4 separate regions of the Homo sapiens genome follow, and regions 2, 3 and 4 are each reported to be linked to region 1. Evidence: microRNA targets listed by miRTarBase, many of them from high-throughput screens and not tested one by one. Region 1 holds a microRNA gene; each other region holds the end of a gene's coding sequence. Distances are between the middles of the regions.
What was found. The annotated mature microRNA hsa-miR-665 reads ACCAGGAGGCUGAGGCCCCU and lies in region 1 at 2,060-2,079, shown strand. An mRNA with a match to its seed (bases 2 to 7 or 8) in the 3' UTR can be bound and repressed. Matches are read on the target gene's strand: a 7mer-m8 pairs with bases 2 to 8, a 7mer-A1 pairs with bases 2 to 7 and ends in A, and an 8mer does both.

Region 2: miRTarBase lists TMEM86A as a target of hsa-miR-665. Seed matches in the 3' UTR shown: 7mer-m8 at 2,578-2,584 and 7mer-A1 at 1,103-1,109.
Region 3: miRTarBase lists ARGFX as a target of hsa-miR-665. Seed matches in the 3' UTR shown: 7mer-m8 at 763-769, 7mer-m8 at 924-930, 8mer at 1,195-1,202 and 7mer-m8 at 1,532-1,538.
Region 4: miRTarBase lists DAD1 as a target of hsa-miR-665. The part of its 3' UTR that is shown has no 7-base or 8-base seed match.

What each region holds. Positions count from the first base shown.
Region 1 is chr14:100,873,016-100,876,124 of GRCh38, forward strand. MIR665 (microRNA 665) reads left to right here and starts at 2,018; the gene lies at 2,018-2,089. MIR337 (microRNA 337) reads left to right here and starts at 1,478; the gene lies at 1,478-1,570. RefSeq lists an enhancer at 657-826.
Region 2 is chr11:18,701,516-18,704,621 of GRCh38, reverse strand. TMEM86A (transmembrane protein 86A) reads right to left here. Exons shown (of 3, transcript NM_153347.3): 3 at 1-3,049. The coding sequence ends at 2,613. It overlaps IGSF22 (immunoglobulin superfamily member 22), which reads left to right. Exons shown (of 23, transcript NM_173588.4): 23 at 84-310. The coding sequence ends at 154. Among named protein-coding and RNA genes, the nearest start is that of IGSF22-AS1, 3.4 kb to the left of the region's middle.
Region 3 is chr3:121,586,216-121,589,215 of GRCh38, forward strand. ARGFX (arginine-fifty homeobox) reads left to right here. Exons shown (of 5, transcript NM_001012659.2): 5 at 1-3,000. The coding sequence ends at 385. Among named protein-coding and RNA genes, the nearest start is that of FBXO40, 5.7 kb to the right of the region's middle.
Region 4 is chr14:22,572,511-22,575,618 of GRCh38, reverse strand. DAD1 (defender against cell death 1) reads left to right here. Exons shown (of 3, transcript NM_001344.4): 2 at 386-560. The coding sequence ends at 516. Among named protein-coding and RNA genes, the nearest start is that of DAD1, 15 kb to the left of the region's middle.

The DNA.
Region 1 (3,109 bases):
TTCTGTCTCACATTCCACCTCTCCTTCACTCATGTGTCATGAGGAGCCTTTTCCCTACTAATGTGTCACCTGAGCTTCTCTCACATGTCACTTGAAGTCCTCCCCTTCCCATGCATCACCCAGAGACCTTCCCCCCACTCATGCATTGCCCTGAGCCCCTCCCTTACTTATGTGACATGGAGCCCCTCTCCACACCCATGTGTCACACCAACCCTCTCTCCACTGATGTGTCACACCAACCCCCTCTCCACCCATGCGTCACATGGAGCTCTTCCCCCACCCGTGTGTCACACCAGCCCCCTCCTCCACCCATGTGTCACACTAACCCCCCCCACCCATGTGTCACACCAGCCCCCTCCTCCACCCATGGGTCACACCAACCCCCTCCTCCACCCATGTGTCCCATGGAGCTCTTCCCCCACCCGTGTGTCACACCAGCCCCCTCCTCCACCCATGTGTTACAGGGAGCCCCTCCTCCCTCCATGTGTCTGTCAATCTGAGCCCCTTTTCCATTCATGTGTCACTCTGAGCCTCTTTCCCACCTCCATACCCTCCTGCCACCCCTACTTCTTAATCTTTAACCCCTTTCCCTAAAGGTTTCCCTCCATGGGCTCTTTCAGAGAATGTTATATTATCAGGTCATTTACTCACAGATATTTTTGCACCACCTACCACGTGCCTGGCTGCGTGTCCCTGTGCATGTGTGTTGGTGGTGTGGATGGCTGGAGAGTGTAGGACGAGGCAGGCAGTATGGTGGTTGAGAAAGATGTCAAAGAACAAAGGAAGGTGTTTTGGGGTACAACTTTATTGAGATGTAATCCACATACACACAATCCGCCCATTAAAGCTCACAGCGAAGTGTGTTTTAGTTATTCACAGATATCTGCAACTATCACCATAATCAATTTAAGATCATTTTCATCACCCCCAAAAGAACTCCAGAGCCTTCAGCTGTCACCTTCACCCTCCATGCACACCCCCCAGCCCTCAGCAACCAAAAATCTACTTTCTGTCTCTGGGAAATTCTTGAAGTGCCCCTGGACTTCATGAGTCCTCACTGGGTCCCCAGAGGTGCCTGTTGCAACCCATTTCACAGATGTAGAAGGCAAGGCTGGAGAAGTACCAGGGAGTCAAAGCAGTGGGTGGGTGGGGTCGAGTCCCCGATGTCCACTCACAGACCTGGGCCAGAATCAGGCCTGTCTCCCCCTTCACCTCCCCATCCTCCGTCCCTTGGCCTGGCTGCACAGTCACCTGGGGGCTCTGTGGGGCTAAGGGAGGCCCAGGCCCTGGCCATAGGAGGCAGGTAGGGCAAGGCTGGGCAGGGTGGACAGGTACCCCAGCGCTGCAGGTGCCCAGCAGTGGGTGGCACTGCCTAGGCTGGCTGTCCCTTGCTGTCACTGCTCTAACCACTAGCAGCAGGCGTCCCCTCTGCCATCCGAGCGCTTGCACTGCGCTTCCGGGAGGAGGGTTGCGGCCCGTAGTCAGTAGTTGGGGGGTGGGAACGGCTTCATACAGGAGTTGATGCACAGTTATCCAGCTCCTATATGATGCCTTTCTTCATCCCCTTCAACCACGCGCAGCCCCCGGACCCTCCTCTGCACCCTTGGCTGCACGGGGACGCGTCCTCAAGTCCGCTGCTGTCCTGCCAGCCTCTTCCCGGCATGCTCCTTGGGCTCTTCTCTCTCTCTTCTGCAGCTCTCTGACTTCCTGGAGGGGAGGGCCTGGGGCTGGGCCATCTCTGAGGCCCCTCCTTGGCAGGGAACTATGCCCCTGGTGGGACACCCCCTGGGCTGACTCCACAGCCAAGGGCAGATAGGCCGGAGGGGGAGTTGGGTAGCCCTGGGGCTTCTCCCACTGAGGGGCTGGGGCTGTGCTCCCACACAGAGCCCTCCAAAGGGACCCGGCCCACAGGATGGATGGACAGACGTTGGAGAGATGGTGCCCCTTTGTGCCCAGGGTGGAGGGGGTGGGGCTTTGGCGGACCAGGGCTGGCCCTTTCTGTGCCCCAAGAGGAGGGTCTCCTCGAGGGGTCTCTGCCTCTACCCAGGACTCTTTCATGACCAGGAGGCTGAGGCCCCTCACAGGCGGCTTCTTACTCTCTCCTTAAACCTGTTCTGGAGACATTTCCCCTCTCCCCAAGGATTCCCAACTCTGGGTCCCCAGAAGCTGTCAGCTGGGCTCCCTTCTTCCCCTGTGCGTACCCTGCTCAGGCTGGGTACCTGAGGGTGCCCAATGGCAACATGAGCAGGGGGCACGGCCGTGGCCCCTGGTTCTTGGACCTCTGTCTTCTGCCTCTCTGACTAACTCAGGTCCTGTGCATGGCAGAGGTGACCCGCACCAAGCCCTGTGATATTGGCATCATTAACCCCATTAACAAGCCACGACAGCCAGCCCAGGCATGAGCATCGGGGCAGCAGGGCAGCCAGTGTGGGGAGAGAGGCCTTGCAGTAGCTGAGGCCATTAGAGAGGACAAGAGGGTGCAGGAGGGAGCATCCTCACCTCTGCCCTTCCCACTTACATCCCATCTCCCCTTCCTCACCCCTCCTTCCCCATGCACCCCTTCTTCCTGTAGGAGGGAGCACCCTCACCTCTGCCCTTCCCACTCACCTCCCATCTTCCCTTTCTCACCCCTCCTCCCCAATGCACCCCCTCCCTTCCTGCAGGAGGGAGCACCCTCTCCCCTGCCCTTCCTTCCCACCTCCCGTCTCCCCTTCCTCACCCCCGCTTCCCCCATGCACCCGCTCCCTTCCTGGTCTACCCCTCAGCTTCTGTGGTGTCAGGATGGGTATGCTTGTCTTTGTTGATCTCAGACAGGTGGACAGGGGTCTGGACGAGGCTTACTGTTTGGGTCTGAGGTCAGTGCTCATGGGCTTGGGGCATGACAAGGGTCTTGTCGTCCCCGCAGCAGGGCTCTGAGCGGGTGGGTGGAGCTTGGGAGTGGGGGTGATGGCTTCTATTTGTTGTCTTTCTCTTTTTCACTTTGGGAGCAACCGGGGTCACCAGGTGGGCAGGAGGGGACCTCACGTCTCTGCCCTGGGCAGATTGTTAAGAGCTGGTCAAGCTCCTGGCACGGGGGCCTGAGTCCAAGGCCCTAACTGGACCTGGGGCC
Region 2 (3,106 bases), not on the chromosome of region 1:
TCCTGCATAGGAAGTCCAGCAGTTTGGAATTTCCCTGGTCGCCAGCATCATTAATATAACGAATACTTCCTTTGCTCTTTCAGACAAAGATGATAAGTCAGTTGTAGCATCCATCACCGAGAGTCTGCAGAAGAAATCAAAGCACCTCATGTGAGCTCCAGCCAAGCCCAGGCATCAGGAGGCTGTTATGATGTGGAGTTTCTTGGCCTGTCCTCTGCATGGCCCAGTGTAGGAAGCCCAGTTTGCTCTCTGGTGTTTGTTAATGTAAACATTCAGTGAAGGGATGGGGCAATAAACGTAACTCATCCTTTCCCGTTCCTGAGGGTGATATACAGCAGGGACCAAGGGGATGGATGTGATTGCATGATAGGGAATCCCAGACCTGGACCCCTGAAAGCCTAGTCCAAACCCACCCACAAGGCAGTGACCAGCCTTCTTGTGACTGGGCCTGGTCTTCCCTTCCCCTCCTCCACATCTACATGGCACTTTCCCCCTCCCCTCAGAGCTTGGGGGCAAGTCCTGCTGACTTCATCCTGCTCTCCATCCTGCTCCCTCCCATTTCTTCACACTAGGTAGGTCTGTGTTCAGAGTTCTGAAGTTTGAAAGGATCAAGATCTTCCCTCTTTAGTGTCCAGGGTTCAGAGCTAGAAGGGATTGATCATCCAGCTCACTAAGTTTCAAACTTACGTTTTTCAGTGGAATCCTTCCAAAACAAAACAAAACAAAAAAAAACACAACCTAAGAAGCTACTGGACTTGAAATAAGGATAGGAGGTCTTTGAGCCTGCCTTCTCTCATTATTCCTTCACTACCCCCTTACCAGGAATCTCTGTAAAAACTAATTTGGAAATCACTGACTCATCCAACCACCCCTGAGACTTGAGTCTCCTAAATCACATCCCCACAAATGAGCAACACCTCTACTGATGGCATATCCACCACCACCCAAGGCTTCCCTTTCTACTTCTGGGTTAGGGCATTGTCTGTTAAGTTACAAATGCTCCTGGAGCAGAGTGATGTATTATTCTGCCAGGGCTTTACAACTAATGAATGAATCAGCCAATCTAATCCCATTGCTCCCAGCTGTTCAACTAAGCCCAGAGTCCAGGATGAGGGAGATGCTTGAAGGGAATCTGGATCATTTTGAAGGAAGCAGCAGGTCTCAAGTGGGGAGGGGAGGAGGTGGGCAGCAATAGATGACACTGGGTAACTAAAGGTCACCAAGGGTGCTGGGCACCTGTGCACAGGGGAGTACATCAAGGACAAATTTGGACAGTGGCAAATACCACTCATCCCCCATCCTCCTAAACCACATCCTCACCCACACCAGGGAAGTGAGACACACTCCAACCGGCACAGTGTCACCAGAGCCAGGTAGCCAGCCTGGCACCAAGATGCACTGCCCAGGACTGTGACTAGGCTGTGAGGACAGCCAGAGCCTCTGGCACCATGCCCCCATGCCCTCTCCAAGATAGGCATGTGCCACACAGGCCCACAAGCAGGGCAGCCAATGGCTCTTGATTTTTATTATTTTTCACATGGGCAGCAGAAGATGGAGTTGTCCCATCCTTGCTCCCCTTGCATTGAATGTGCCTTGGGTCTTAAAACCCCGGAGTGTCATTGGAGCCCCCTCCTCTTGCTCCTAGTGTAGGAGGGACAAGGAGGAAAGCACTGTGAGTATGTGTGTTGGAGGGGAGGGGTCCCAGCTCCCTGAGCCAGGCTCAGCACCCCTCAGCAGCTCCCTGAGGCCCTCTCTCTGTGAGACTTTTGACAGACAGCAGGACAGAAACATATAGCAGAGAAAGACATAGGCAGACTAGGAGACAGGCTACACACACACACAGAGAAGCTGGCCCCTTCCTTTGGCATGGTTCACCCTAGCCCTGGGGATAGGATCTAAGGGTAGCGTATGGGACCTGAGCTTTGGGCTTGCCCGAGAGAGAGATGGGGCTACTTGAATTCTTGAGACCCCAAACTCCGAGACCAAAGAAGTTCTCTCTCCTGCCTAACCTGGACCCACACCTCTTCATGTCCCCACCCACCACTTAGAGACTGAGATTGTTCAAGTAACAAGGATAGAAGAGGGAAAAGAAACGGAGGCTCCACTCTCATCCAGTCTTCCCAACTAGGGGCCTGTGAAAGGGGCTCCTGGGTCTGAGTCTTCTCAGCACAGATTCTCCCGTTTCCCTCAACTTTGTGCAGATGAAAAAGGGGAGGAGTGGGTGAACCCAGCACTGCCATTGGTCCTAGGCATAACACATGGAGTCAGACTCTTCCACCTGGTAGGGGAAGTGGGTGGGGGGGTGTCAAGAAGCTGAGCACCATCACCTTCCAGGGGGGTTTTGAAAGTCCTGATAGGGTAGAGGTGGGGAGATGTCTACTTCTGGCTCCAGTCTGATATTAGGCTGGCTCTTTTAGCTCTCAGCATTGTCCTGAACCACGAGTTCTGCTAGGGAGATCCTTTTCCAGCCTCCCCACACGAACTTGCAAATTCCTCAGGCAGTACCTGCTGCCCCAGGCTGGCACTGCAGCCATCCTGATCCAGCTCCTGCAGGTCCCCAGGATCTGGGCCCCAGCCCCAGGAGGAGAGAGGGGTGACCAGACCCTGGCACCTCAGTTGGCCTTGGTCAGTCTGTAGTGTTCCACAGGCTCCCGGCTTTCGACAGCTGACAAGGCGACGAGCATCTGGGCCACATAGTAGGTGGACATGATAAGCGCCCGAGAGTAGGGCACAGGAAAACAGAATTTGTTGAGGGCGATGGTCAGGTCTGAGATGATAAAGAAGAGTGCACCACTGCCAGCTGCCAGCTCTGTCCAGCGCCAGTCTGCCCCGGCCAGCCGCAGCCCTGCCATAGCTCGCCAGCCCATGAAGCCGATAAGGGCCACATAGACCCCCACCAGGTAGGTGAAGGCACCTGAGAGGCATGGGTAGAGGAGGGCATAGCACAGGCCCGACAGCGCTGCCATCACCAGACCTGTCCGAAGAGCCAGTGGCTGCATGCCAAAGGCCGAGGCGTAGAACATGTGGGTCACAGCAAACATCAGCAGACCTGGGGGTAAGAGGGGCAAAGGCAGCTGAGGGCAAGCTTGATGAAGAATGAGTAACA
Region 3 (3,000 bases), not on the chromosome of region 1:
TTGGGCATGGAACTCTACCTTCACTGAGAGTTCTACCAGTGACTTCCAAATGCAAGATACTCAGTGGGAGAGGCTGGTGGCCTCGGTTCCTGCTTTGTACTCTGATGCCTATGACATATTCCAAATCATAGAACTGTACAATCTTCCTGATGAGAATGAGATATCCAGCTCTTCTTTCCACTGTCTGTATCAGTATCTCTCACCCACAAAGTACCAGGTAGGAGGACAGGGTTCCTCTCTCAGCATCTTTGCTGGTCCAGCTGTAGGCCTATCTCCTGCACAAACCTGGCCCAATATGACAAGCCAAGCCTTTGAAGCCTACAGTCTAACAGATAGCCTGGAATTCCAGAAAACCTCCAATATGGTAGACTTGGGATTTCTCTGACCAGAGTACTAATAAATATAGATCATTTAGAAAAGTGGTCTTCTTGCCTCTTGTACATGACTGTTTTTTTCCTTTGTCTCATTTTAACCCAACATCTGGGTCTGTGTCTCTGATTTCCATGTAAATGTTGCAAAAAGAGTTTTCCAAGTAGAGCTGGGCACTACGTAATCAGCCCCACAAGTCTCCCTGAGAAGCCTGCCTAGTCCCTTTCATGGCCAATGAGACTCCAAAATTCCCTTCCCAAAACTATCTTGGATTTTCTAAAAGTAGGACAGTGGTTTTGGGGGTTATCCACTTTTATTTTTTTGAAACTAGCTCTCATTCTGTCACCCAGGCTGGAATACAGTGGTACAGTCACGGCTCACAAAAGCCTTGACCTCCTGGGCTCAGGTGATCCTCCCACCTCAGCCTCCTGAGTAGCTAGGACTACAGATGCTCGCCACCACACCTGGCTAATTTTTTTTTTTTGAGACTGAGTCTCGCACTGTCACCCAGGGTGGAGTGCAGTGGCGGGATCTCAGCTCAGTGCAACCTCCACCTCCTGGGGTTCAAGTGATTCTCCTGTGTCAGCCTCCTGAGTAGCTGGGATTACAGGCGTGTGCCACCATGCCTGGCTAACTTTTGTATTTTTAGTAGAGACGGGGTTTCACCACGTTGCCCAGGCTGGTCTTGAACTCCTGACCTCCAGTGATCCGCCTGCCTTGACCTCCCAAAGTGCTGGGATTACAGACATGAGCCACCGAGCCTGGCCAATTTTTGTGTTTTTTGTAGAGACGAGGTTTTGCCATGTTGCCCAGGCTGGTCTCCAACTCCTGGACTTAACGCCATCCACCTGCCACAGCCTCCCAAAGTGCTAGGAATACAGGAGTGCACCATCGCACCCGGCTGGGTTATCTAGTTTAAAAACACTTTTTTTCAAGGAAACCGAAGAAACCATCATCCACTTTTCTCTCTGTATCATTCTGATTTTAGTATATGTGTTGTGGAAGTGAGTACACTATCATCCACTTTTAATGACAGAAAGTTATAAACTTACATTTTGTTTCCAATTTTTCATTTTTTGTTTGTTATTTGTTTTTTGTAGACAGCACTCTGTCACCCAGGCTGGAGTGCAGTGGCACCATCTTGGCTCACTGCAGCCTCTGCCTCCTGGGCTCAAACAGTCCTCCCACCTCAGCCTTCTGAGTAGCTGAGACTACAGACATGCGCCACCATGTCTGGCTAATTTTTGTATTTTTAGTGGAGATGGGGTTTCGCCTTGTTGCCCAGGCTGAATTTGGGTTTTTTTAAAATGAGACTTTCAGTCCTAATTTGAGGGGAAATTACTGTCACCACTAGTTTTAATATAGTACAATGAAAAAATAATATATATATATATAGTACAATGGTCCAGACATAATAAGAGGTGTAAAAACTATCACAGGAAGAAATAAAAACAGATTTTTGAAGGTGAGATGATAAACTTGCAAAACTCACAAAATAAAGAGTCAAACTTTTAGAATGACAAGTTAGCATATTTTCCAGCCACATGATCAACCTACAAAATTAATACCATTTCTGAACACCAGTAATAAAGAAACATAAGGGCTGGGGGTGGTGGCTCATGCCTGTAATCCCAGCACTTTGGGAGGCCGAGGCGGGCGGATCACGAGGTCAGGAGATTGAGACCAGCCTGACTAACATGGTGAAATCCCGTCTCTACTAAAAATACAAAAAAAAAAAAAAAAAAAAGCCAGGCATGGTGGCACACACCTGTAATCCCAGCTACTCGGGAGGCTGAGGAAGGAGAATTGCTTGAACCTGGGAGGTGGAGGTTGCAGTGAGCTGAGGTCGCACCACTGCACTCCAGCCTGGACAACAGAGCAAGACTCTGTCTCAAAAAAAAAATAAAAAATAAAAAATAAAAAATAAAAGAAACATAAGATAAGTACCTCTCAATGAAAAATGTAAAAGTACCTAGAAATTCACAAAAAAATTAATACCTCTGTGGAGAAAACTTCAAAACTTAAAAAAGGACATAGAAAATGTTTTGAATAGGCCAGGCGCAGTGGCTCACACCTGTAATCCCAGCACGTTGGGAGGCCAAGGCGGGCAGATCACGAGGTCAAGAGATCAAGACCATCCTGGCCAACATGGTGAAATCCTGCCTCTACTAAAAATACAAAAAAAAAAAAAAATTAGCTGGGCATGGTGGCACACACCTGTAGTCCCAGCTACTTGGGAGGCTGAGGCAGGAGAATCACAAGGATTGAAACTATGCAGTGTGTTCTCCAAACATGATGGAACGAAATTAGAAATCAATAAAATTTGGGAAATTCACAAATATGTGGATATTAAACAACACATTCCTAAATAACCAGTGGTTAAAGAGGTAATCACAGTCTGAGCAACATGGCAAAACCCTGTGTCTACAAAAAATAAAAAATTAGCTGGGCATGACGGCCAGAGCCCATGGTCCCAGCTACTCGAGAGGCTGAGGTAAGAGCATCCCTTGAGCCACAGAGGTCGAGGCTGCAGTGAGCTGTGACTGTGCCACTGCACTCCAGCTTGAGCAACACAGTGATACTGTCTCAATAAATAAATAAATAGAAGAAATCATGAGTAAAATTGGAAAA
Region 4 (3,108 bases), 78 Mb from region 1:
CCGAGATCATGCCACTGCATTCCAGCCTGGGTGACGGAGCGAGACTCTGTCCCCGACTCCCCAAAAAATAAAGTTTTTGATTGTGTTGCCCAACTTACTTGTGCAATTCATCCATTTTTGTGTATAGCAGAAGTTCTTTTTCATTGCAGTATAATATTCTATTGTTTGTATATGCTATAATTTATCCATTTTACTGTTGATAGACATTAGATTGTTTCCAGTTTGGGGCTATCTGGGTATCATTTCTGTGTATGCCCTTTGATGTATATATGCATTCATTTCTGTTAGAGTAGAATTGTTGGGTCCTCGGGTATGTCTGTGTTCATTAGCATATTTATTTTATACTTCTATATAATCATTTTTTTGTGTTTTGCTTCTTGTGCAGTTTGCCTGAGAATACAGATCAACCCACAGAACAAAGCGGATTTCCAAGGCATCTCCCCAGAGCGAGCCTTTGCTGATTTTCTCTTTGCCAGCACCATCCTGCACCTTGTTGTCATGAACTTTGTTGGCTGAATCATTCTCATTTACTTAATTGAGGAGTAGGAGACTAAAAGAATGTAAGTGATGATCATAGTCCTTGTCCTATAATGTTGATTTTAGGAAGAGAAATTGGATGGGACTGGTTTTGATCATGGTTGGCCAGGCTCCCATACTGCTATTGACATTTGCAGAATTTTCCATTGGTCTGCAAAGTATGCATTAATATCATCATAATTCATCAGTGCTACTGCTCTTGGTCATTGCCTTGTCTTTCTGTTCTTCAAATCATTAAGGTAATAGAAAATTAATGTTTGTAGCTAGTACAATAATTTCTGTACCAATAACTCCACGAAAATAACTCGGAGATTTTGGAAGAGACATAAATGGTAGGTTTTGCCTTTAGATTTGTTAGTTAATTTTTTTCTGATTTTGATCTCAGATGACTTTTAATGCTGGACCATTGTTTTCATAGCACTTAAATTTGATAGCATCCAGTGTATGTTGGATGAATGACTGTGGGCATTTGCTAATATGTGCCTTAAAGTAGAAATAAATGGGGAAATTGGGTTAACTTGGGAGAAGACTTTAAAATATAAGATGGGATGCTGCTTGGTTCATTTGCCATTTTCACTTTTTTAGCAGTAGAGTTCTTTCTCCCTTCTCCCAAACAAACTCTTACAAAAAGAATCTTGGTATATAAAGCAGAAGTAGAATTGGAGTTTTTTTTGATGGACAGAAATTGAAAAGCCCTCTCTGCTTGGCCTTCATCACATATGGTACGCCCTCCCCTAAATCGCTCCCTCCCAAGCAGAGTTCTAAAGCTTTAATAAATATATGGCTGTTTTCCATACCGTATGTCAACACTGTTACTTTATATATGAGACAACAGAGGCCTAGAACAATCCATTGGCCTTCCCTGGCCACATAGTTAAGTGTTTGCAGTGAAGTGCCCTAGTCTAGCGGTGTTCTTGGCCCCGTACTCCTTCCGGTATCCCATGTAGCTTACTGATGAATGCATGCAATCTTTGCCTTTGCATTGCAAAATGTAATGTTCTGGGTGGTAGAGAAAAGAGAACCTTAGGAGATCTCATCCTATTTGGGGGAAGGATATCCTAGGACCAACCTCTTCCTGTCACCACTTGGAAAGCTGTCATTTTTATACTAACCAGCAGAAATCTAGTATAAGAGTTAGAGCATCTATGTGCAAAGTGGATGCAATAATGTGGAAGTGACTATACTTCCTTTTCTGACATGAATTAGTCATTTACTTATAATATGTTACCTAAATCCTTTCCTTTGATACTGCCTCAAAAACAGTTCTGTTAGTTCAGGTAAGGTATCATTTTGGTAGTGGTAAGTTGACAGTGAGGTTTATTTCAGTGAAAAACTTTTTTTTTTTCTTTTCTGTTTTTTTTTTTTTTTTTTTGAGATGGAGTCTCGCTCTGTTACCCAGGCTGGAGTGCAGTGGTGCGATCTCGGCTCACTGCAGACTCCGCCTCCCGAGTTCATGCCATTCTCCTGCCTCAGCCTCCCGAGTAGCTGGGACTACAGGCGCCCGCCACCACGCCCGGCTAATTTTTTGTATTTTTAGTAGAGACGGAGTTTCACCGTGTTAGGATGATCTCGATCTCCTGACCTGGTGATCCGCCCGCCTTGGCCTCCCAACAGTGAAAAACTTTTAAGAACCACTTTGTTCTGTTATTTTAATACAATTTAACTCATTAGACACCTGATTAAGACTTGAGTTATCCTCTTCCTCCCTTCCTCCCTCCCCTTCTATGTGCCAGCCAATGTCTTGTTGTTGGGAATATAAACAATATTGTTGGCTGGGCGTGGTGGTTCATGCCTATAATCCCAGCACTTTCGGAAGGCGAGGTGGGCGATTGCTTGAGCTCAAGAATTTGAGACCAGCATGGGCAACATAGCAAGACCCTATCTCAATTAAAAAAAAAAACCCAAAAGTGTGGCTTCTGCCTTCAAGACATGTACAGTCTAGTAGGGGAGAATACGTAAACATAACAGTTAAAATACAGCCCATTTAGGGCCTCGCTATAGGTTTGAACAAAGTGCTGCAAAAATCCAGAGAAGAGAGCAGCTGTACCATCTGGGAGCAGGGACAGCAGATGAGTTATCTGAGCAATGGATAACAGCTATTGCTAGTTAAAATGAACTGTTACCAGTGGATAACCTTGAATGCAGGTAGAAAACTGACCCACCAACATTGACCTTCTCACGCTTGCAAATATGAGTAACCCTTGGGCTTCCTGATAGAGCCTTCTGGAAAGGTCATGTCTTCTGATTGCTTACTCTAGATTTCTGAAGTTCTTTTTTTCTAGATGAGTCATGGTGTGTACTTAGGAAGGGGACACAGCAAACATTTCAAGGATGTTTTCTAGGCTCAGGGAGATACCAAATCATGGAAAATTATTTCTTAGGGCTGTCATGATTGGAGGAAGACTCTACTGCAGAGAGCTTAGTATTTCAAAATTATGACAAAAGCAAAGACAAAAAAGCAGTCTCAGCAGAAACTGTGTACTGCAGACCATATTAACAACCTAGGACCACCTGCTCAGCTGGGAATTATGGGCCCAAAGCATAGCAAAATCCTCAATCCCAGATTGCAGT